3 separate regions of the Homo sapiens genome follow, and regions 1 and 2 are each linked to region 3. The links come from fine-mapping of genetic effects on gene expression. A gene starts in region 3. Each other region holds a variant in brackets. All regions are shown on one strand. Distances are from middle to middle.

Region 1 (8,142 bases), 120 kb after region 3:
CAGGCCAGGTCGCCTGGTCCATGCTCCCGGCCCTCAGGGTCAGCCAGCCCCGTAGAACTTTCTGACCAGGCGGTTATTGTCTATGCTGACTGGTACAGTAGCCAGGGGCCACATGTGGCCATCGGGGACTTTTTGAAGTCTTTTTTTTTTTTTTTTTTGAGACAGAGTCTTGCTCTGTCACCAGGCTGGAGTGCAGTGGTGCGATCTTGGCTCACTGCAACCTGTCCCTTCCAGGTTCAAATGATTCTCTTGCCTCAGCTTCTCGAGTAGCTGGGATTACAGGCGCACACTACCACACCCGGCTAATTTTTTGTTTTTGTTTTTTTTGAGACGAAGTTTCCCTCCTGTTGCCCAGGCTGGAGTGTAGTGGTGCGATCTTGGCTCACTGCAACCTCCGTCTGCCGAGTTCAAGCGATTCTCCTGCCTCAGCCTCCTGAGTAGCAAGCTCGCACCACCATGCCCGGCTAATTTTTTGTATTTTTGGTAGAGACGGGGTTTCACCATGTTGGCTAGGCTGGTCTTGAACTCCTGACCTCAGGTGATCTGCCCTCCTTGGCCTCCCAAAGTGCTGGAATTACAGGCATGAGCCACCGTAACTGGCCGTAAAGTCTTAGTTTTTTTTGTTTGTTTTGTTTTGTTGTTTGTATTTTTTTTTTTGAGACAGAGTCTTGCTCTGTCGCCCAGGCTGGAGTGCAGTGGCCGCAATCTCGGCTCACTGCAAGCTCTGCCTCCAGGGTTCATGCCATTCTCCTGCCTCAGCTTCCCAAGTAGCTGGGACTACAGGCGCCCGCCACCACACCCGGCTAATTTTTTTAGATTTTTAGTAGAGACGGGGTTTCCCCATGTTAGCCAGGATGGTCTCGATCTGACCTCGTGATCCGCCCGCCTCAGCCTCCCAAAGTGCTGGGATTACAGGTGTGAGCCACCGTGCCCGGCCAAAGTCTTAGTTTTTAACTTGAACTTCCAAGGCCACGTGCGTCTCCTGGCTCCTGCACGGACTGTGTGACTGTCCCCGACAGCTTTCCTGTCTCGTCTCATGAGGGGTCCAGCACATGGCATTCTGGGTCGGCACCTGAAGTCCACCTCTATGAGACCCTCTGGGAGCGTGACGGGGCCTTGGCATGGGTCGGCCGAGGCCCTTCTGTCCCAGGTCACTGGTGTGGTCGGCCCAGGCCCTCCTGTCCCACATCACCTGTGTGGTCGGCCCAGGCCCTCCTGTCCCAGGTCACCGGTGTGGTCGGCCCAGGCCCTCCTGTCCAGGTCCTCCTGTCCAGGTCACTGGTGTGGTCGGCCCAGGCCCTTCTGTCCCAGGTCACCTGTGTGGTCGGCCCAGGGCCCTCCTGTACCATGTCACTGTTGAGGGGCTGGCTCTGGAAGAGGGCAGGGACTTGGCATTGGTGGGGGCAGGGTTCCAAGGTGTGGCCTGTCAGCAGGAAGGGGCAGGTGGCATGGGTCCAGGCGGGACTCAGGGCTGGGGTGCCACTGCTGGAGACTGTCCGGAGGCCCCTCCAGGGCACCTTGCCATTGCCATTGTCGCTCATGGCCATCTGGTCCCGTTTCAGGGAACAAGAGGAGGATCAGATGCTGCGGGACATGATTGAGAAGCTGGGTGACTGGGCCGGGGATGCTGAGGGCTGGGCTGGCTGGCTGGGTGGGCCGGGGATGCTGAGTGCTGGGCTGGCTGGCTGGGTGGACCGGGCCTCCAGCTGGGGGTGGGGGGGGGGCGGGTATCGGGTCCCCCCCTCAGCCTTGGTGACAGGACAGGCAGGTTCACCCTGAGGGTGAGAGCTCCCTCCCGCCCCTAAGAGAGCCAGGGGCAGCTGGTGACCGTGTGGTCATGGTGGGGACCAGCCCTCCGGGGCACCCAGTCGGGGCAGGTTCTCACGTGGGAGGGCACAGGGCTTCCTGCAGGCTCGGAGGCCCAGGGCGGATTGTGGCCAGTGGAAGGGAAGGATGTTTCTGGCAGGGGGACTTGTGTGGGCCACGGCTGTGCGGCTGCGGCGTTGAGCACGGCCTCACTGTCCACCTGTCCCCTAGGCCTCCAGAGGAAGAAGTCCAAGTTCCGCTTGTCCAAGATCTGGTCACCAAAAAGCAAAAGCAGCCCCTCCCAGTAGTAGCCAGTAGGGCCGTGGGCTCGGCCCGGACCTGGCATCCGGACTTGGACTCGGGGCCATGGGCTTGGCCCGGACCCGGAACCCGGACTTGTACTCGGGGCCGTGGGCTCGGCCCGGACCCGGCATTCGGACTTGGACTCGGGAAGGGCCTCCTGTCCCTACAAGGGGCATGTGGACAGCAGGGACCTGCGCTACCGTCTGTGGTCTCAATAAAGAAACCGACCACATGGCCCCGGACTCCTACGTGCCTCCGTGTTTGCCTCGGTGCCCCTGGGCGGCCCCGCACCTGCCTGGGGTCTCGCCTGCCTCCCAGCTCTTGCCTGCAGGACGGACGTGCTCTGTGGCCTCGGGCAGGAGCCGACCCTCTCAGGGCCTGGCCCTCGAAGGTGGGCCCTTTCATAGCTTCCTGGCACAGATGGGCTGGTGGGAGCCTCAGAGGAGACGTCGGTACAGGCTGGAGACTTTGGGTGCTGGGTCGCCATGTATCCGTGGCCTGAGAGCTGTGACCTCGTTCTCCCAGGACTGGGGCTGGGATGGGGGATTGTAAGCAGTGGCCCCTGGTCAGGGAGACTTCCTGGTGGCCAGGGCGGGATGTGGGGTGCCCCATCCTTTCTGACCCCCACTGAGAGTGGATGTCGTGGGAGGAGCGCTGAGTCAGGAGTGCAGCGTCCCTGTAAGCCTCAGTTTGCCCATCTGTGCGGGGAGGGGCGGGCCTCAGCTGCTTGTTGCTGCGCTGTTTCAGCTGCTGTAGGAGCCTCTGCGGCGGTCCTGGGGAACCCTCAGCCATGGCAAAGCACCAGTGTTCTCCACCTGCTGGCTGGGGGGGTCGGGACCCCACGGGTCCCAGCAGGGCCAGAGCAGGTTCAGAGCCTGGAGCCCCTGCCGTGTGCGCGTGGGCCCTGGGGAGCTTGTGCTGGGCAGGCCTGTGGCATTCCATGGCCTTCACTGTGCCTTTGAGGGTCTCAAGACTCCTGGAACGTGAGCTGGGTGTGGGGCATGGAAGAGAGGGTGGGCTGGGGTGCACGGATGGAGCACAGCCTCTGCAGTCACAGCTCTGCTCCTGGCAGCTCTTTGGCCTCGGGCTAGGGCACTGCCCTTTCTGAGCCTTTGGTGACATAGGCTGCCTGGGGGCCGTGTGAGGATGAGAGGGGCCCACCGGTGTGCCTCGGGCAGTGATGAGGGTGGAGGAGCACGGAGGTGCTCTCTTGCCCTCTGCTGACAGCGAGACCCCCGCTGCCTCCCTCTGTACCCCCTGCTTCTGCCAGCCACTCGGGGCCCCCGTGGAGGGAAAGGGGCTCCCCCAGATGAGGCCATGGGTCACCTGCACACAGCAATGAGTGGGGAACGGGGTCGTGCTTTGCCTGGCCCTGAGGCCTCTCTTGGAGTCAGGCCACTGGGACCGAGTGTGTTGGTGGAAACTCCCTGTGCCCTCCGAG[G/T]ACTGGGAGGCAGTGGCTGGCAGCAGTGGGACCCTGGAGCCCCCAGGAGACTTCTGCAGGGGGGGGTCTCACCTGGGTGTCGAGGAGTAGGGGTCTCTCGGTGGATGGGCAGGGTGTGCCCTATTGCAGGAACAGCATAGGCAGTGATCTTGGGAGCTTGAAGATGTGTGGTGGGGCAGGTTGGGGCGGGGCCGGGGTCAGGGTCAGGTGAGGCGGAGCGGGTGATGGAGAGAGAGGGGCTCTGTCAGGACCTGGGCCGGCAGGGACCTTCCAGGTGCAGCGAGGTGGCCTCGTTCCTCAGGCACTGGGTGCCTGGGGTGGTTCTGAGCAGAAGCCCCAGGGCCTCTGCTGTGTTAGGAGCATGACGCCGTGGAGGGCGGTCTGGACCGGGTCCCGGAGCTGAGCCTGTGGGTCCCCCTGGGATCTCAGCCCCGTGGGTCCCCCTGGGATCTCAGCCCCGTGCTCACGTCGTAAGGCCTGACCCGCGGCAGTGTGGCCTCTTCACCACCAGGGGGAGGCAGAGAGCCACTTAGTGGAGAGGGGCAGCCGGGAGCCTGGAATAGCTCCGTTTTTCAGACAGGGAAACTGAGGCTGGGAGAGGGCTACGGCTCTCCCACGTCACACAGCAAGCGAGGCGGGGCCAGGGCAGGGGGCTGCGTAGCATTTTTGAGACCAGAACGGGAAGGGAGTGTTGTCCAGCAAGTTAGGGGCGTGGGCACCTGGGGCTCGGTCCTGCTGTGGACTCACACCTGGGGGTGTCCCACCGCAGGGCCAGGAAGCTTCCGCCCCCACCATCAGCCCCCTGCATCTGGGGACCTCAGAAGCAGCCCTGGGGTGCCAGGTGCGCTCCAGGCTGGGCACACAGTTGGTGCTCAGTGATCAGAGCCCCTGCAACAAGTGGTCAGGTCTGCCAGGCACTAAGCCAGCCCTGCGGGATGTCCTTGCTGTCCACCAGGGGCCCAGCACCTGCAGACCCCGGTGACACCATCATGGAGAGACAGGCAGGAACGCAGCCCTGGGGCCATGGGCGTTGGCCAGGCCCTGTGATGCCTGTGCTGCCTGTGCTGCAGGAGGCTGTGAGGATGGGCGTGGGAACCCCTGAGCAGCCACTCGGGCACAGGTGGGGCTGGCTGCGCCGCCGCCCGGCTCCTGCAGAGGCTGCCCCAACCCCAATGTGGAAGAGTTTCAGCCCGGGCCCCACCCACCCTAGATGACCCCTCACAACTTTCAGGGAGGGCAGAGGCACGCAGTTCCCCAGTGGCCTGGCTGGACGTCACCCACACCTGCCAGAGACTCCGGGCCAGCGTCTCGTGCCTGTGCACGTGGCAGGCAGTCCATGCACATCAGAGGCTTTCTCTCTACAGACATGGCTAGGAACAGCCAGTCTTCCTGAATGGATATGGGGGTGGGTGGGGCCGCAGAGAAGGGGAAGAGCTGTTCCCTGACCCACATCCCCGTCGGCCCCTGTATCTGCACTGGCCTCAATACTACAGCCTCAGGTCTGGGGAGCAAGGGCTGGATTGAGGAGTGTTCTGGGCTCAGGGACCGGTGTGGTCCTTCTGGTGAGCTCTGGGGTGGGGAGCTGACACTGGCCCCGTGTGGCTGCGTCAGGAGGGACAAGGAGGGAGGCAAGGCTGGACCAAGCAGAGTCTCCACTGGGATGCTTGGAATTTGGACTTGGACTTGAGTGGCCCCTCCAGGCCGGGCACAGGGGGCCAGCCCAGCCATTACAGGGCACTGGTCTGTGGGAGGGTGGGGGCAGCTGGTGGGGACTTGTGTTCACCCCTTGCGAAGCCAGGGCAGGCTTGGGCTGATTCCCAGGAGTTCTTCCAGCCTCACCTCTGTCACCCTTGCCCCCTCCGCTCCGGCTGCCGGGCCTTGGCCACGGGCGTTTGCATTTGCTGGTCCTGCTCCTGGGGCCCCTGCACTCCACATAGCTGGCATCCTGCTATCTCTGCTTAACTGCCCTTTTCGGAGAAGCTCCTGCCCCTCACCCTGATTTCTTTCTTTCTTTTTAGAGACAGGGTCTCACTCTGTTGCCCAGACTGGGGTGCAGTGGCGTGATCACGGCTCCCTGCAGCCTTGACCTCCTGGGCTCAAGTGATCCTCCCACTTCAGCCTCCCGAGTAGCTGGGACACCCGGCGCACGCCACCACGCCCGGCTAATTTTTAAAGTTTTTTTTTGTGGAGACACGGTTTTGCCATGTTGCCCAGGCTGGTGTTGAACTCCTGGCCTCAAGCAATCCTCCTGCCTTGGCCTCCCAAACTGCTGGGATGACAGGCGTGAGCACACGGCCACCCTGGTTTATTGCCAACACTCGGAACGCACCTATGTTTAGATGCTTGTTTGGGCTTCCTCTCTGTGACGGATCCTCCGGAGGTCCCGGCTCCTCCGTCTTTCTGCCACGCCATCCTCAGCGCCTAGAACAGTGCCTGACACACGGCAGGAGCCTGATGAGGATTTGTTGAATGAATGAATGACACCAGGGCTCAACGCCACTCCAGGACTCAGTCTTCTCACCTGTCAAGGGGGCTAGCACCTGGCCCAGGGTTGCTACCTGGTCCACTGGTCCAGGGAGACAGACCTGCTTGAGCCTGACTGGTTTCGTACTTGTGGGACCCCCGGGGCTGCCCCTGCCCTGCCCGGGGTGGGAGGATTGAATCAGGTCTCGTGGGGTGGGCAGTGGAGCCACTGCCAGCGGGCACACACCAGGCACCTCCTGCCCTACCCAGACTTGGGCTGAGCAGGGGAGGGACAGGGAGGGACTCGGGAAGAGAGCACAACGTCTCTTGGGGGATTTTCCGGGCATCCCACAACGGGGGGCTGCCCTGTTCCCTGGGGCCCAGAGAGGGAGCCTGGCCCTGGCCCCGAGTGATGAGCACAGCCCGGCCGGGCCCAAAGACCGCCCCCCACCCTGATCTGTGTAAGCTGCGGGTCCCGGCCGGGGCCTGGGAATGTCATAGCTGGTCTGCCCCGCAGGGAGCGGGGAATTGACATGCAGAGCAGACCTCAGCCGCTTCCATGGTGGGGCCCCCTCACCCCTGCCGCCCCATCTGCCCTGCCCAGGCCTCCTGCTCCAGCCCCGCCCCGATGCACAGGAACTGGCTTGGCCCTTCCCACAGCACCTCAGCTACCCCCAGACCCGTTTTCAGAGGAGGGTGTTGAGGCCAGAGAGGGGAGGGACCTTCCCAGTCCCTGAGCCTGCCAAGGTGGGCCCAGCTTGGGGTGGGGACAGAGGGGCTGCTCCTGGCTGGGGCAAGAGTTGGAGGGGTCTCCGATGGGGGCATGGCCACGCCCTGTGCCATGAAGCCCCTCACAGAAACTAGGGAGTCGTGGGCAACACCCTGTCCCTGTGACAGGAGGGGAAACTGAGTCACGGAGTGCCCAGGGCCCCATGGCAGGAGTGGGCAGGGCCTGGTTCTTGTGCCTTGGCCTCCATCTGGGAGGAGGCAGGGAGCAGAGCTCAGACTCCTCCCAGTGAGGGCCCCCCATGTGGCTCTGCTGCACGGCCCCAGTTGGGGGGCTCCCTGGGTGGGGGGGCTCTGGGAAGCCCACAGTTACCCCCAGGTAGAAATGTCTGTGGCCTGCACCTCTGCAGCCTGGCCTCCTTCCAACCTCGAGCGGCCGCTGTGAGGGTGTCTGGGAAGGAGGAGCTTTTCCTGTGTCTTCTGGCTTCTTCCTGCCCCTCCACGTCCTTCCAAGGCCTCACGGGGACCCCAGGGACAGCCATGCCTTGCTTCTCTCGGGTGAATCATGGAGAAGGGGCCTCCTCTGGAGCCCAAGACGCAGGGGGGCTGAAGGGGTCTCCTCTGGAGCCTGAGACGCAGGAGGCTGACGGCTGCCATGCAGGCTTGCTCCCCAGCGGCCATTCCCTGCCAGGCCCACCCTCACCTTTGTGGGGCCCGGGAGAGAGTTGAGCCCGAAGCTCCCCCCACTTCTCCTCCCCGGAAGCCCTGTTTAGCTTTGGGAGGGAGGAGCCTCCCACCTCGGGCCTGGGAGCCTCCACGCCAGGGCTGGGAAGGCCTCAGGAGGACTCGAAGGGGGTTTCAGGGTGTGCGCTCAGGGAATTCTGGGGTCCCGGGTGCTGGGGCATCAGGTGGGAGGTGGACATGAGCTCTGGGTGGCCCCCTCGGCCCTGCAGACCCCGCCAGGAGGGGCACAGCCAGATCATACGTCCGGGCCCTGCTCCTGTCTGCGGGCCTCCTGCTGGGTGAACCTCCCTCACCCTGAAGCTGCCCTGGCTCCTACTGGTCTGGAGCTTGGACTCCCAGGGCCCTGCTCCCCGGGGACCCTCCCGGCAGAGGCCTTTGTCTGGCTGGCTGTGATGGGTCCTGACACCCCATCTGTCTGTCTGTCGGTCCACCTAGGTGTTTCCCCCCGGGCCGGCCTGCCGTGACGATCACAGCCCTGCCGTCTCAGGTCACGGTTTTGGATTCTGCGCTAACGAGGTCTCCCAGGTGGGCTGGAAACACTGATGAAGACGGATAGAAAAAACACCAGCCCACCGGATTATTAATAAAGATAATCACACACACCCCTTCGTCGGCAGCCGGCCTGACACTTTATAAAGCACGTTAGGATATAATCCAAT
Region 2 (8,172 bases), 340 kb before region 3:
AGCCTCGCGTCCAAAGGGGATGGTGTGGAGGGCTGGGCGGGAAGGAGGTGCACTGGCCCGTCCTCGTCACCCCCTGAGGCTTCTCAGCCTTGGGCCAACCCTATGTGGCTTTGCAGCCCTGGACCTCCTGGGTGCAGAAGACCCTAGGCTGTCCCCCTGACTTTCTCAGCCTCTGTCTGTCGCAACTTGGGCTTCGTTCCATGAGGGCTGCGGCCGTAGGCGTGTGTGTCAGTGTGTCCAGAGGCAGTGGTGCCTGGGGAGGACTGAAGTCCGTGTGGGGCCGGGGCAGGGGACGCCTTCCAAGATGCCAGGCTGCGCAGTGGGACAGCGCAGTCCCAGAAGCCAGCACAGGGCAAGGTAGACAGACTAGAAGAGGAAAGGAGAGCCAGCCGCATCTCTACACTCGCGTCCTGCGAGCCAGCAGGCGCTCTTCTGGTTTGCTGGTGAAGCCAGACTGGGTCCACCGTTGTGGACATGAAGAGTCCTCGGGCGAGCGGGGTCCAACAGCAGAAATTGGGGTGTTATGTGTTGACCCTCAGGGTGGAGGTGGCCCCACTTGGACCTCCAGCAGCTGGAGACCCAGGGCAACAGGGGCTTGTTCATCACTGCCCCGGTGAGCTAACCTCCGGTTTGTGAGGATGGTGCCGTCGGCCTGGTGTGGCATTGTGGCCCCGGCATGACCTCGTGGCCCCGTCTTGGCATGTGGCTGCTTCAGGAAGGGTGGAGGGGGCGGTGGCTGTGGGAGATGAGGACAGGCAGAGACGGGCCCCACCTGGGACTGCTGTGGTCTGGAACGGGCGTCTAAACTGCCTGCAGTCTGCAGCCTCTGCGTGTCTTTATGGAACCGAGAACCAACTTTGATTTGTATAAAAGCTGTACCCAGTGCGGCCTACGCATGTCCGTCAGCGTCTCACAGCGGTGAGCCGCTGCCTGTCTGATTCAGCCTTAGCCCGGCTCTTCCTCCTCCTTCTGCACAACCCGCCCGTCTTCACAGCCTGCGCTGCACGGGGGCACCGTGCCGGGCTTGCTCTGCGTTCCTTGTGGATTTCCTGCTTCTCAGATCACAGTCATCCATTTCTACACTCTTGAAACTCTCAAACCTTTGAATAATAAAAACACACCAAGTCTTTAAGCTATCAGAAATGTACTTCTTCGCTTTTGTATAATTCTGTATACTTTGAATAATTCACAGAGGTGTTTAATGCATTATACGAATTCCATAGGTTTCTAAAATGATTAGGTATTAATAAAGGTGTACCATGAACAGTTATCACTTAACATATCACTCGTTACATCAACATTTACAAATTAAGAGGCAGCGTTTTCCCCGGATCCCTGCGTGTGCTGTAGTTGAAGCGAATCTTAGGAAGACTAACTGCAGCGGAACCTTGGGGCACCCTCCACAGTGTTTTCTGTTGAGAGTGTCGAAAATCCAAAAGAGGGAAGCAAGCCACTCGTCATCTTCCCGCGAAAGGTGGCCGCTGTCCTGCTTCGCCGTGTTTCCTTTCGGTGTTTCATACGTAGGCACATGCCTAGGCATGTTCATTTACACCTGGGAACTCGGGATCCTGGGGTTCCATTGTGTGTGCTCCTGTGTCACTTTTTAAAAACACCGTCAGCAAGTAGCATCTTGACCACTGTAAGCCCTGCATGGGCTTCTGAAGCGCAGCCCTGCCCAATGTCCTCAGGTTTGCTGGACACCAGGTCCATCCCCGTCATACCCTCGAGCATGGGCCCTGCCGCTCTTCCTGCTCGAGCCAGCATCTCAGCTCCCCCGGCCCTCATCCGCCCGCCCAGGATCCCAGCCATGGCAGGATGTTGAGACCAGAAGGCTTGGGCTGGCCTCAGCTTGCCAGTGGCCGGACTTTCAGCCCCCATGGCCTGGGCAGGAACCCCTGCCCTCCTTTCCGCCTTGGAGCCCTCTCAGCCCCCAGGCTCCTGAGGTCAGGGAGAGGCAGGAAGGGGGCCCCAGGAGGAGGAGGCAGGCGGACAGAGAGCCCAGGAGCTGGCCAGCTCCCCAGCCCTGCTCGCCCCAGGCCTAAAGGACACACAGCGTACGGGAGGCCGGGCTCGCCCTGAGGAGCCGTGGTTCCTGCAGGGGTCTGGCCTGGGCCCCGCAGCTCTTGCCAGGCATCCTGCCCGCCTTCCTAGACTCTTGTGATCTGGAGCCTTGGCGCCTCCCCAGGCCGCCCCCTCACTGCCCATCCTCCAGCCCTTGCTGTCCCTTCTTTCCAGTGGCAGGCCTGGCCTGACCTGACCTTCTGGACCACGGCCTGTCCTGGCCCAAGGCCCGTGTGAATGTGACTTTGCAGGTCCTGAGGGCTGGATGTGCTGGGTCAGAAGCCATGGAGCTGAGGCAGCCGCCTCCGGAAGGACAGACGGTCCACTGGCCCAGTGCTCCACCAGCAAGGCCTGGTGCCCGCAGAGGCCCCGCTCCCCACCCTTCCGGCCACCCACCATGCCTGCTCTGGGCCGTGTTCCGGGGGCTGGCTCAGGTGGACAGTGTCAGGGAACGAGGTTGCTTTTAGCTTACCCACTTTCCCCATGTGTGACATGCACTGTGTTTTCATGCTTGAAGCTCACAGGATCAGGGAGATTAAGTAAAGTATGGAAGGGCTTTACAAGTTGATGTTTGCAGGCGGGGCTGAGAGCTGCGGGGTGGGCCTGGCATGGGGAGCTCTGGGCAACCCAGGCAGGGGGCTGACTCTAGGTGAGCTTGTGGGCTGGTGCCCAAGTGCAGCTGTTGCCAGGGGGGTGCTGGCTGGGCCTCTGCCTCATCTGTAAAGCAGGTACAGTTACGTCTGACCCACAGGAGTAAGTGGGGCCATGTTCCTGGCACATCCATCATGGTTGCCAAGACCCCACCTTGGTCCATCGGTTTCATTTCTGAGCAGTGAAGTCCCCGCAGGAAGAAGCTGCCAACTTGTGTCTGCGGTTTTCCCTGGAACCCCAGCATCAAGGCCCACCTGCTCCATCCTCTTCACCTGGGCCCAGCTCGCTTGTAGACACCTTCTCCAGGAAGCCCTCCTGGGTTCCCCAGATGTGGGACCCTTCTTCCGCTGGCTTCCCTCCTAGGACACGTGCCACCTTGTGTTTTTCCTGACAGGCGAGTCTGCCGGAGGTTTTATCCTGTTGGGTTCGTTGTCCCTTGAGGGTCCCCAGGGGGCCTAAGTGTGCCCCTCCTGTGTTTCTCCCCCACTGCTGGGTGCCTGGTTCTTAAAGATGCTTCTTGCTCCATTTCTCCCTAGGCTTCTTTTCACAGCCTCTTTCCCCCAGCCTCACCCAACCCCCACCCTCTACTCCTGCTCTTCCTCCTCCCTCTCCCACTCCTCCTCCAGACTCTGTCCTGCCCAGCTGATGTGCCCTGCTAGCAGCTGTGCCTAGCACCCCGCTCGCCCCCTCCCCTCTTTGGAGGGCTGGGGCCTCCCAGACCTTCCTGCGCCCCATCTGGTTGATGTGGAGGGATCGCCTGCTGGATATGGGCCTTTAGAGCATGTTCATGAGGGCTGACACTGGGCATGCAGCCTCACCTCCCCAAGTTTCAGTCTCCTCACCTGTGGAGTAGAAGTAACTGTGGCTCACTTCGGAGGCTGCAAGAGGCAAGTCTCATAAGTGCCACCTGTGGAGCTGGGGAGGGGTCATGTTGCACCGGGATCCCTGTTGGCTGGTTCAGCTCCAGCCCACGGTGCACCCGTGCTTCTCCCAGAGCTGTGACTAGCTCTGCCGGCCCTGTGTGTCCTGGTCCCTGCAGACCTTCTGGAGGGCCTGCAACATTTAGGGAGCTTTCAAAGGCTCCCTGTAAGCCGACTCTTCCCAAGTCCTCCTCCGAGCTGCCCTTCACTGGGTGAGGCCGTTGGCCTCCTGAGAAATCCTCCCCCTTGGGTTCCAAGAAGACAGCGCTAGAGCTGCCAAGTCTTCTGGCAGGAGCTCTGACCAGGAGATCAGCATCAGTCCTGCCCCATCCACCTGTCATTCCTGCCTCCTTTGTATCCAGGACACCAAGCTTGGTGACAGGAGAGGCACTTGTACTGTTCGCAGCAGCTCCACGCCCCCAGCTCAGGGCCTGGCTTATGGAGAGGGCAGTCTAGGGCTCTGCCAGACAGACAGAAAAACAGGTTTCAGTGGAGCAAAAGGGAAGAGA[C/T]AAACAGTGAACAGACAACAGCCAACCTGTAGGGCCAGGGCTCATGTTGGCACCTCTGCCTGCAGATGGTCACTGACTCCTTGGGGCCATGCAGCGGTGGCCCTGGTCTCCACTGTCCAGAGGAGAGATAAGAGACACTGTGGAGTCACCTTGTCCCGGGCAGCTCCTGACCCTGGTGTGCAGCCTTGGCCAGGCCACTGCACTCCTGTGAGACTCAGTTTCCCCATCTGTCATGAGGAATGTGGTCTGGGTGCTCCCTGGGGGCCCTGACCCTGGCCTCCTGGCTTCAGAAAGGCATCCTCAGGGGGCTGAGCATCACTAGGTGTGCCCAGGAGGGTCTTCCCTGAGCTACCCTCCTGAGATAGGGCCACGGAGGGCAGAGGCCAGTGTGGGAGGGCAGGGAGAGCAGGGAGACAGGCCCCCTGCCCCACCCACTCCACCTGGGGGCTGGCATACGTGGCTCCCGTGCTCCTGAAAGATCTCGCCAAACCCCAGCCTCCTGGCCATGTCATTTATTTTATCAGATTTTCCCCCAAATGATTCTTCAGGCAGAAAGGGGGCTGCAGACAGAGTTAGAAATAGCCGAAGCCGTTTCCAGTCAAGCGGGTTCCACAGATGTGTGCTGGGATAATTGAGGGTTTGCCGCACAGTCCCCCGCCACTCTGCTTCCCATCCCAGCCAGGACTTCCCATCCCAGCCAGGACTTCCCATCCCAGCCGGGACCAAACCTCTTGTTGCCGCGTGGGTGGAGGGAGCTGGCTGCCTGGGCTGCCGTTTGGGGGAAAGGCAGGCAAATCTCAGCTCCAGCTCTTCCCAGCGGGAACCTGCTGCCTCTGCTCCTCTCCCTCCTGAGAGGGGATAGAGATTCCAGAGTCCCTAGAGCTTCCTGGGAAGGCCATACTCTGCCTGGGCCTGGAGCGGGGAGGCTCAGCTCCTGGTCTCTCCATCCCGGCTGCACTCCTCCCAGTGGTTCTCACGGAATTTTCCCCACCTCCCTTTTCCCCTCTTCTCAAAACCCAGGGAAGGAAGCCTTCTGTTACGAGAGGGAGAAAATCAGTGGTAAGAAGAAGTGGAGTGACCAGGCCGGGGACACAGAGCAAATGCAGTTTGGGGCAAAACCGTGAGCTTCTGGGATCTGGGAGACACACTGGTTCCAGCAGGCTCCTCATTCCTTGCTGTCCAGGGCCTTCCCCGGCTCAGAGGCCTGCAGGGTGGGCGTCAGGGCCAGAGGCGTGGACGGCACAGATTCCGGAACTGCACAAACATGTGGCGATGTCGACCTACCGGGTTTGTCATATGGATGAGGGGGAAAGGTATACAGGTCCAGCCTCCCCGATTCGAAAACCTGAAGTCGGGAATGTTCCAAAATCCACAGCTTTTTTTATTGTGGGTCTGTCACTCAAAGGAAATGCTTAATGGAGCGTTTCCGATACCAGATTTTCAGATTAGGGATGAATATTTGCATGAGATGCTTACTCAACCAGTAAGCACGTAATACAGATATTCTGACAACCTGAAAATCTGGAAATCCCAGACACTTGGTCCCAAGCGTTTCCAATAAGGGATACTCAGCACTCACCTGTGTGTATATGTGTAAGTCTAGTACGGTCTCGCTTTGCCAGATGACAGGGATGCATGCTGAGGAACGTGCTGGTGGGCAGTGTTGTCTTTGCGGGAACTTCCTAGAATGACTTGTACGAGCCTGGGCCGTGCAGCCTCCCGCACCCTTGGGCCGCATGGTTTAGCCGGCTGCTGCCAAGCTGCAAAAGTGTGCAGTGCGTGACTGTGCTGAATGCAGTAGACCACCGTGGCGCAGTGCTAAGCATCTGCGTGTCTGTACGTGTTTAAATATGGAAAAGGTGCCATAAACATGATGTATGAAGGGTGGAAGACGGTGCACCTGCGTAGGGTGCTCACCGTGAACGGAGCTCGCAGGGCTGGCGGGTGCTCTGGGCGAGCTGGTGAATGAGGGTGAGTGAGTGTGAAGGCCTAGGACATGAGTGTGCACAACTGGAGACTATAAATGCCGTACCACTTAGGCTACACTCAACTATTAAAAATACTGTTCTTTTCTTCAATAATAAATGAATGGCTGGGCACAGTGGCCTGTGCCTATAATCCTAACATTTGGGGAGGCTGAAGTGGGGGGATCGCTTGAGCCCAGGAGTTCAAAACCAGCCTTGGCAACATAGCAAGACCCTGTGTCTACAAAATATTTAAAACTTAGCCAGGCGTGGTGGCGCCTGCTTATCGTCCCAGCTACTCCAGAGGCTGAGGCGGGAGAATTACTTGAGCCCCAGGAGTTAGAGGCTGCGGTGAAAACTATGATCGCGCCACCGCACTCTAGCCTGGGTGACAGAGTGAGATCCCATCTCTAATAATAATAAGAATAAAGTTTGTTGTAACTTTTTGAGTTTATAAACTTTTTAATTTTATTTATTTATTTGAGACAGAGTCTTGTTCTGTCACCAGGCTGGAGTGCAGTGGCGCGATTTCGGCTCACTGCAACCTCTGCCTCCCTGGTTCAAGCGATTCTCCTCCCTCAGCCTCCTGAGTACCTGGCATTACAGGGGTGCGCCACCACACCCAGCTAATTTTTTTGTACTTTTAGTAGAGACGGGGTTTCACCATGTTGGCCAGGATGGTCTCAATCTCCTGACCTGGTGATCCTCCCTCCTCGGCCTCCTAAAGTGCTGGGATTACAGGCGTGAGCCACCGCACCCAGCCTATTAAAATTTGTTTTGTATAACACTTAGCTTAAAGCACAAGCACATCCTACAGCTATAGAAAAATGTTTTTGTATAGCAGCCTTCCTGGGAAGAAGAAATAGCCCCGCACCCCTCGTCCTTGTGCTGGCCCGGGGTGTCGCTTCTGTGCACCCTTTTTTCCCCTCTGCCCATCCTTGCTGCCCCTGCCGGACCTCAGCAGGGGAAGGGGAGGTGGCGCAGAGCCCGCTTTCTGGCGTCTGTCTGATCCCGCCGAGGTCCCGCACAGAGCCCGCTGCTGGCGTCTGTCTGATCTTGCTGGGGTCCCGCATTCTCACTGTTGCATGGACTGTGGAAATCCCAGACAGGAAGGCTGTGCACCTCCCCAGGAAAAATGAGAACATGGGCGTCAGACAGGGTCCAGACTCCTCTACCACAGCAGGTTGGCCCTGGGAAATGACTTCTGGCCTCAGCTCCCCAAGGACAAAGTGGGGCCCGTGAGCACCCCTTCTCAGGTGCTGAGCGATGGAGAGCTGATAAAACAGCACAGGTGGCCTTGGTTTCGGGGCTCCCTCCTCCTCTCCCCGACATACCTGTAGTGGCCGGCACAGCCTGGGCCTCCGTGGAAACTGGCAGGATGGGCTTGCCTGGTGTCTTTGCCTGTTATGTTGCTATAAAGGAATATCTGAGACTGGGTGGTTTCTAGAGAAAAAGGAGTGTATTTGGCTCACAATTCTGGTGGCTGCTAAGTTCAAAAGTGGGCACGTGTGCACCTGGTGAGGGTCTCAGGCTGCGTCCACTCATGGCGGGAGATGAAGAGGAACCGCCCACTTGGGCAGAGATCACATGGCAGGAGGCCAAAGGGGTGGGGTGCCAGGCTCCTTCTAACAACCAGCTCTCATGGAAACAGAGAGAGACCTCACTAATTCCCTCAAAGGCAGTACCAGGCTGTGGGTGAGGCCTGTGACCCCATGACGCAGACACCTCCTCCCCATAGGCCACACTTCCAACATTGGGGATCCCATTTCAATATGAGACTTGTCAGGGACGTACCAACAGTACCCACACCAGAACACGTGGTCCTGGGGTGAGACCCTCCCGGGGATCCGAGCCCACCATACCCACACCAGACAGAGCGTGTGGTCCAGGAGTGAGACCCTCCCACGGATACATGCCCCTCCCAGGAGATGATTCCCCATTCTTGCCATAGAGAGGGGCCAGGAAGGCCCAGGTCCTGTGTGTCTTGAGAGTGGAGGCAGCTCCACCTCCCAGCTGCCTTCACAGCCCTGTGGGTGGGCAGCCTTCAGGGCACCACCAGCCTGGGGC
Region 3 (8,172 bases):
TCTTGCCGGTGGAGACAGGCCCAGGCTGGCATAGGCTCTGCCTGAGGTCACAGACACCTCACACAGCCAGAGCCAGGCCCCAGCTTGTGGCATGTGGTCCAGGGCCTGCTCCTCCTGGCTGTGGGGGCTGCTCCCCGGCCCCAGTGAGGAGGGGGCATGTGGGTCACCAGGAGGCCATGCTGCCTGCCCGCCCCACGCGGCTCTCAGGAGGCCGTGCCCGTGGACAGGAGCCGGGGGAATCCCAGAAGCAGAGCCGGGAGGATGTGGAGCCCCATCCCTGTCACCCCCTGCTCACACCCGGGGCTGCTGCCTTGGTGAACTGCTGGCCAGGGCCCCCAGGGGAGGGCCGCGGGACCTGGGAAGCCGGGTGTCTGAGATGGGTGCCCACCGGTCACCTCATCCCCCTAGTGTGCAGCTCAGCCTGGGACATCAAATGAGCCAGCCCTGAGGAGGCGGCTCCTGGGCGCCCCGAGTTCCACCCAGCAGTGAAGGAGGCAGGCAGGGGGGTACACCATGCCTGTCCGCATCTGCAGAGAGACGGGCAGGCAGGGGGTCGGGGTGGGCACTAGCAGGGCAGCCGGCCTGGAACCAGGCAACAGCTCATGGGCCCTCAGCCGGGTTTCTCATGAGAGCAGGAGGAGGTGGCTGTGCCAGGGCCAGGGTGTGGGACTGGCTGGGCGGCTTCTCAGCCTCCCCACAGCTCTGGGCACCTGGACGCAGTGAACAATGGTCAGAGGGCCCCGTCGCCTGGATCTGGGCAGACAGGTCTGTCCTGCAATGGGCTTGGTCAGTGTCCCGCCCCCGCCAGAAAAATCAGGCCCAGCCGGCCCTGCCGCCTCCTGTGACCGGGCGCAGAGGCTGTGACACCAGCACCGGGTGAGGCCTCGATCAGCCGGCGAGCCCTGTGAGCAGGTGGCAGAGCGGTCAACCTCCCGACTGCCCCTCCCTGGGGACCAGGCCCTGCTCCTGACATCCCCAGACCAGTACACTTGGTCCACGGTTCCCGAGCTGGCGCATCTGGCTCAGCCGGGACAGCTGTGGGCTGAGGAGATCAGCAGGCCTCCCTGTCCAGTGCCCAGCTGGCCCTGTGAGAAAACCCCACCTTTTTCCACAGAGGATCTGCCTCTGGCGGAAGACAGAGCTTTGGAGGTCCCTCAGTCTGTGTCCGGGGCCCAAGCCCTGAGCCTGCCCGAAGCCAGAGCCCTCCCAGAAGCCTGGCTCTGCTGGCTCCAGCCAAAACGGTCCTGCTGACATCTAGCCACAGTGCCTCCTGCTGTCTGCACAGCCATTCCCACCGTCAGCCCAGGGAGGGGCCCGAGGCTTCATCCTGTGCTGGGGGCTGGACGCAAATCAAGCAGGGGCTGGGGCCTCAGTTTCCCTGCCTGTAGCATGAGCGAGTTGGATGAGGGGATTCCCGGTCCCTTCCAGCTCTGCGCATGCCCAGGCACCAAAGTCTTCACCCTTCAAACGGGCCCCCAGCCATCGTCACTTCATAGTTGTCCGTGACGGTGATCCCGACACAGCCAGAGGGCGACATCCACACGCGCTGAGCCGACTGCCTGGGGCTCTGCAGGCCGGGTGGGAGGCCGGCAGGAGTACCTGTGGCTGCAGTGGGAATGCAGCTGGATGGAAGTTGGGGACCGCCTTCCAGCACCCCTGCCTGGCCAAAGGGAGACCTTAGCCCACAGGGTCACCGCCTCAGCAGGACAGCCCCCACCCCGCAAGCCCTGTGCCCCGAGCATGGACAGGGCACAGCTCTAGGCTCTGGCAGCTCCTGCAGAGGGAGGACCAGCAGCAAACACAGACAGGTGGACAGGGAGTCACACACACAGTGAGGAGGGTGATGGGACAGCGGGGATGGTCTCTCCAGAGGTGACGCCTGAGGCTGCAGGACAGAGTCACCCGGGAGCAGGGTCGGTTGGTCCAGAAGGTCCCTGCCTGGGGAGCAGGCAGGCTCCAGGAGGGCCCAGCCAGGGTGTGCATGCTGTGGCTCTGGGCCCGGGCCCGGGTGGGCGCTGATGGGGAGGTTAGGCAAGGCGGGCCTGAGAGCTGGGCACGACTTCCTGAGCTTGTTCCCCACCTGGGAGCCTCCCTGGAGGGACAGTGTCAGTGGAGGAGTTGGGAAAAGCAGGCAGGGTGTCCCAGGGAAGGATGGGCCTCAGCCCGGGCCCCTCACGGACCCCTCAAGGATGCTGGACGCGTTGATGCGCCTCTCGTTCCCATCTCTAAAAGGGGAACAGGCCGGACGTGGTGGCTCAAACCTGTAATCCCAGCACTTTGGGAGGCTGAGGCGGGCAGATCACCTGAGGTCAGGAGTTCAAGCCCAGCCTGGCCAACGTGGTGAAACCCCGTCTTTACTAAAAATACAAAAATTAGCTAGGTGTGGTGGTGGGCGCCTGTAATCCCAGCTACTCGGGAGGCTGAGGCAGGAGAATCACTTGAACCCAGGAGGCGGAGGTTGCAGTGAGCCGAGATCGCGCCATTGTACTCCAGCCTGGCGACAGAGCGAGGCTCCGTCTCAAAAAATAAATTAATTAAAAATAAAAGGGGAACAGTGGCTCCAGTCATTCCAGCCTCAACCCCTTGAGCCCTGTTGCTCAGGGCTGTGGGAGGGTAGGAGATATGAAGGACAAGGAGTGTGTGGATCCGTTGCGGGCATGGAGCGGGACTTGGTAATGGTGGCCCCAGCGGCATGAGCCCAAGCGTAACCAGAACAGGACAAGAGGTGGGCTGAGGGCCCACATCCCTCTCCCAGGAGCCGGGGTGAGTGAGTTTTTTCTCCACAGGGGCCTCTGCATGGGGGTGACAGGGACCCTCAGGGCCCCGCAACCCCTTGCCAGACCCCAAAGGGTCCAGGGACTGGGCTGTCACTCCCCCTCTCCTGCCTTGATCCACAAAAACCAGAAATATTTCCTTTTTTTTTTTTTTTTTTTTTTGGACACAGAGTCTCCCTCTGTCCCCAGGCTGGAGTGCAGTGGTGTGATCTCAGCTTACTGCAACCTCCGCCTTCTGAGTTCAAGCGATTCTCCTGTCTCAGCCTCTTGAGTATCTGGAATTACAGGTGCACGCTGCCACACCTAGCTAATTTTTGCGTATTTCGTAGAGACGGCGTTTCACCATGTTGGCCAGGCTGGTCTCGAACTCCTGACCTCAAGTGATCCACCCACCTTGGCCTCCCAAAGTGTGGGGATGACAGGCGTGAGCCACCACGCCCGGCCCAGAAAACAAATGTTTTCAACTCATCTCTTGGGGCGTGGATTTTTTTTTTAATTCAGATGAAATTCACATAACATCAATTTACCCAGGTTTAAGTGAACGATTCGGTGGCGGTAAGTATATCCACAGTGCTGTGTGCCTGCCGCCTCTACCTCATTTCAGGACTCCTGTCACCCCCCAGAGAAACCCTGTACCATTAGCTCTCCACCCCTCCTCCTGCAGCCCGGCCCTCCTTGGCCTGCCGCAGACCTCTCCCACGTGTCCCCACCAGGTGGCAGCTGCCTGGCCGTCTGGCATAGGCAGGTGAGGGCGCCAGGCGGCCAGCAGGTTCCTGGGAGCCAGCTGCCACCCAGCAAACAACCGGGAGGATAGGGTGTCAGCCGTGGGAGGGGACAGGAGGGGACGGGCCTGCAGCCTGGGGCCCAGGTGGGCCACTGGGGACGTGAGGCACTGGCCGCCCCGCCCCAGCCTGGCACAGCCCTTCAGATCCTGGCCTTGCCGCACCCACAGTGGGGCCTCCAGTTGGGGCCACGTGGCCATGAGAATGACCAGCTAGGCTTCCCTGGAGGCCAGGCCTCCCTGGACTGGGCCAGGTGCTTCCTGCCAGCAAAGGTAGAGCTGGGCCCTGTGACCGCAGACCAGAGGGAGAGGAGGAGGCTGGACTGGGCTGCGAGTGTGGGAGAGGGTGGACTCAGGGCCCCAGCAGGTTAGTGGGAGATGGAACAGGCACCCAGGGCTGCCAAGAACCCCAGCAAAGCCGGGCTCCCAGGTGGGTGGACAGGTCCCAGAGCCAGTGAGGGCCGGCTCCTCCCATGAGGGTGGCTGCACACCCCCTCCTGCCGGGGCAGGCAGTGCTGGTCTGCGCCCGCTCCCCAGCCCTCCCGGGCAGGCAGGGCGGCAGGGGTTCCCCCTCTTCTGCCCCACTGGAAGACGGTCTTTGTCCCCTAAGAAGCAGGCTCCCTGCAAGCCTGAGACTCGGAGTTGGAAGCTGGTTTTACAAGGGGGAATTGAGGTGGGACCCTCAGGTCGCAGGTGGTTGATGGGTGAGCTTCGATGGCTGAGCTCGGAGCAGGGAGGGAGCCGGGCCTGGCGCTGGTGTCCGTGTGGGGGGTGCGGCCTGGTGGGTGGCTCAGCCTCAGCTCCCGTCTCACTGTCTCCTCCCTCCCCCGCTGCTTCCTGCTGCCGGGAGCCAGTACCTTTGCCCTCACTCCTCCCGGTGTGTGTCCTCCCTCCCTCTGCAGATGAGTAATGTCTCAGGGATCCTGGAGACAGCCGGCGTCCCCCTGGTGTCAGCGAACTGGCCGCAGCCCAGCCCCCCACCGGCTGTGCCAGCTGGGCCGCAGATGGACCACATGGGGAACAGCTCCCAGGGGGCCCCCTGGCTCTTCCTCACCTCCGCACTGGCCCGAGGCGTCTCGGGGATCTTCGTGTGGACTGCCCTGGTGCTCACCTGCCACCAGGTAAGCCCTTCCGCCCCCGAGCCTCCTTCAGGACCTTGGTCTCCACAGGACGTGGCCGTGGCTCAGCCCGGTCCCCCTGGGTGCCGCTGCTATAGACGCTGTCAGAAGTGGGATCGGCCAGGGCACGGGGGAGGGGATGAGCTTCCCCAGGATGTGGCATGTGGGAGCTGGGCCTGAAAATGGGGAGATCTCTGCCAGGCTGAGGGCAGAGCGCCCACCGGGCACCCCTGGCTATTTCACAGGCTCGTCACTCGGCTCACTGAGGTCTGCAGTGTGGTCCCATTTCACAGACAAGAAGACTGAGTCTCAGAGAGACCAGAGGTCTTTCCCAGGCTCACATAGCTGGAAAGGGGAAGGGGCCTTCTCCTTCCAGAGGCGTGACACCCTGGAGAAGGCTGGTGGGAGGTTGGCAGGGGGTTGGACTTTGCTCTGTAGGGAGCTGGGGAGCAAAGGTCACAGCTTGTTAGAGGGACCGGGACTCCTGTGCAGGAGATGGGCGAGAAGCAACTTCCCCAAGCCCGAAGCCACACACAGCCCCCGACCCGGAGCAGTCCCCAGGTGGGAACAGAACAGCCCCCAGGTAGAGAAGCGGCCAGGCGCTGTGGCAAGGAAGGGCCAGGCAGGGGCAAGGAGGAAGTGGTGCCCGAGGGCAGGGGCTGGGCAGAGAGGGCAGGGAGTCAGGGACAGGACCCTCCTGAGAGACTCAGATACACAGAGAGGCCAGGGCGGTGTGCGCAGGGGTGGGGTGGGAGTGCGTGTGTAGGCCCGCGAGGGCCACACGGCTGCAGGGATTTGTCCAGAGCCCTTGACCCCAGTGCGGTGAGGTGGCTTTCAGGGGGTGCTGGGAGCCCAGGAAGGCTGTGGAGGGCTGGGCTGAGGGCAGAGCTGCTTCCCGGGTGCACGGGGCACTGGTGTAGGGAATGGATCTGTAGGTGAGCTGGGGCAGGGGGCCATCAGGAGACTGGCAGGCAGGGACACCGGTGGCCACAAGTCTCCGAGGGAGCATCTCAGTGACAGTTTATTAACTGCTTATTAGCCGGGCATGGGGGCCTGCACTGTTAGTCCCAGCTACTTGGGAGGCTGAGATGGGAGGATCGCTTGAGCCCAGTTCAAGGTTGCAGTGAGCTGTGAACAGATAACCAGAACCCACGGTAGACGTGTATGAGTGTGGCCTGGAGTGTGCAGAGCCGCGGAGGCAGTGCCGAGGCAGGCCCTTCCTGTAAGGCCATCAGAGAGGGCTTCCCGGAGGAGGCCGTCTTTCCGCTGTAATCCTGGGAACCGGCTGTGTGTGCGCGGCTGTAGTGTGGCTTTAGCTTCATGGGGCCTCGCAGTCAAGACAGGGCTCATGGAGACCCCTTGGGCTGGAGTTCAGGCCCTGTCCCACCCCTGAGCCCACCGCCAGAGTCACCCTTGAGTGAGGAGTCCCAGGCAGGACACAGAGTGGCTGGATCCCCCTCACTTTATACATGGGAGGACCGAGGCCGGAGAGGACAGTGGCTTGTCAAGGTCACCCAGCCAGGCAGCGCCAGCCCCGGGAGAGGTCTCCTGATGGCTGGTCATGCCGTCCCTCCCAGGGACCATCGGGGAGCGTGTGACTGATAAGAGTCTGTTCCTGCCTCCAACCTCCCCCAACTCCCTGAGCTGCACCCCAAGCGGCCAGGTGCACGTAGCCTCTGCTCGCCCACCGCCACGCATGCACCTCCTCCAGAAGGCCTTCCCCAGGAGCCCCTGTGCGCCCAGCTCCCAGGCTCGGCTGACCCTGTCTCAAAGACCCTGTAGTTGAGTTGTATCCTCACAGAAAACATGGAAAATCGGTCAGGCGTGGTGTCTCACACCTGTAATCCCAGCATTGTGGGAGGCCAAGGCGGGTGGATCACCCGAGGTCAAGAGTTTGAGACCAGCCTGGCCAACATGGGGAAACTCTGTCTCTACTAAAAATACAAAAATTAGCCGGGCATGGTGGTGCGCGCCTATAATCCCAGCTACTCAGGAGGCTGAGGCAGGAGAATCACTTGAACCCGGGAGGCGGAGGTTGCAGTGAGTTGAGATTGCGCCACTGCACCCCAGCCTGGGCAACAGAGCAAGACTCCGTCTCAATAAAAAAAATAATAATTAAAAATTAAAAAAAATAAAAACGTGGAAAATCTAGAAAGGTTTAAAGGCAAACACTACTATAATCACCCATACTTTTTCCCAGGCTTTCTTTTTTTTTAGGCAGGATCTCACTCTGTGACCCAGGCTGCAGTCCGGTGGCACAATCAGTGCTCACTGCAGCCTCCGCTTCCCGGATTTAAGCCATCCTCCCACCTCAGCCTCCCGAGTAGCTGGGACTGCAGGCGCCCGCCACCACGCCTGGCTAATTTTTGTATTTTTTAGTAGAGATGGAGTTCGCCCTGTTGACCAGGCCGGTCTCGAACTCCTGAGCTCAGGTAATCCGCCCACCTTGGCCTCCCAAAGTGCTAAGATTACAGGCGTGGGCCACCGTGCCTGGCCCCTAGGGAGGGACAAATTCTTAGGAATCAAAGGGTGCACATCCTTTGGATGCCCCCACAGCAAAAGCCAATGTGCCTTCTGAGAGTCTGCCCAGCCCAGGACCGGGACGTGTCCCCTCTCCGTCCCCCGGGTTGGACACTTAGCTGGGCTCTAGAAACGCCTGCTGAATGAAGGAATGAGTGAGCGTTCCCATTCCCAGGCTAAGAACAAACAGGACCCTCACTCATGCCCAAGGAACTTATTCAGAAAAAAAAAAAAAAAAAACCTATTGTACAACATGGTGACTGTTATAAATAACAATGTATTCTATGCTTGAAAATTGCCAAGAGAGTACATTTTACATGTCCTCCCCGCAAAGAAATGCTAAGTATGGGAGATAATGGAGACGTTAATGGGTTTGACTCAGCCATTCCCCACGAACACACATATCAGACATCGCGCTGCACACTGTAAATGCATACAATTTTGATTTGCCAATTTAAAAAATAAATTTTAGGCCAGGTGCAGTGGCTCATGACTATAGTCCCAGCACTTTGGGAGACGGAGGCAGGAGGATCCCTTGAGCCTAGGACTTTGAGACCAGCCTGGGCAACACAGTGAGACCCTGTCTGTACAAAAAATACAAAAATTAGCCAGGCAAGGTGGTGCACACCTGTAGTCCCAATACTCAGCAGGCTGAGGTAGGCAGATCACTCGAGCCCGGGAGTTCAAGGCTGCAGTGAGCCATGATTGTACCACTGCACTCCAGTCTGGGCGACAGAGCGAGACCCTGTCTCAAAAAAAACCTGGGCAAGAGAGCGAGACCATGTTTCTCAAAAAAATATTTTTTTTTTTTTGAGAAAGGGTCTCGCTCTGTCGCCCAGGCTGGAGTGCAGTGGCGCAATCTTGGTTCACCGCAACCTCCACCTCCCAGGCTCAAGCGATTCTCCTGCCTCAGCCTCTCTAGTAGCTGGGATTACAGGCGCGCGCCACCATGCCTGGCTAATTTTTGTGTATTTAGTAG

Which allele goes with the higher level. Positions count from the first base shown, and alleles are read on the strand shown. Sizes are in standard deviations (SD) of each study's normalised expression. Not every link is listed here.
For the expression in transverse colon of the gene that starts at base 3,737 in region 3, T is the high allele of the variant in region 2 and C is the other (moderate effect, 0.47 SD a copy in GTEx).

Evidence for each region.
Region 1: its variant is fine-mapped to the expression of TMEM184A in pancreas (GTEx, PIP above 0.99).
Region 2: its variant is fine-mapped to the expression of TMEM184A in transverse colon (GTEx, PIP above 0.99).

The regions. Positions count from the first base shown.
Region 1 is chr7:1,428,568-1,436,709 of GRCh38, reverse strand. It overlaps MICALL2 (MICAL like 2), which reads left to right. Exons shown (of 17, transcript NM_182924.4): 16 at 1,563-1,609; 17 at 2,038-2,351. The coding sequence ends at 2,114. Among named protein-coding and RNA genes, the nearest start is that of MICALL2, 27 kb to the left of the region's middle. RefSeq lists an enhancer at 7,612-8,142. The variant G/T (reference allele first, on the strand shown) is at 3,551.
Region 2 is chr7:1,889,940-1,898,111 of GRCh38, reverse strand. All of the region lies in intron 18 of MAD1L1 (mitotic arrest deficient 1 like 1), which reads left to right. Among named protein-coding and RNA genes, the nearest start is that of MIR4655, 50 kb to the right of the region's middle. RefSeq lists enhancers at 6,737-7,237, 7,238-7,738. The variant C/T (reference allele first, on the strand shown) is at 4,142.
Region 3 is chr7:1,551,770-1,559,941 of GRCh38, reverse strand. It overlaps TMEM184A (transmembrane protein 184A), which reads left to right and starts at 3,737. Exons shown (of 9, transcript NM_001097620.2): 1 at 3,737-3,828; 2 at 4,458-4,676. The coding sequence starts at 4,458. RefSeq lists enhancers at 1-94, 3,319-4,118, 4,255-4,549, 4,119-4,919 and silencers at 3,462-3,551, 3,592-3,661, 5,029-5,211.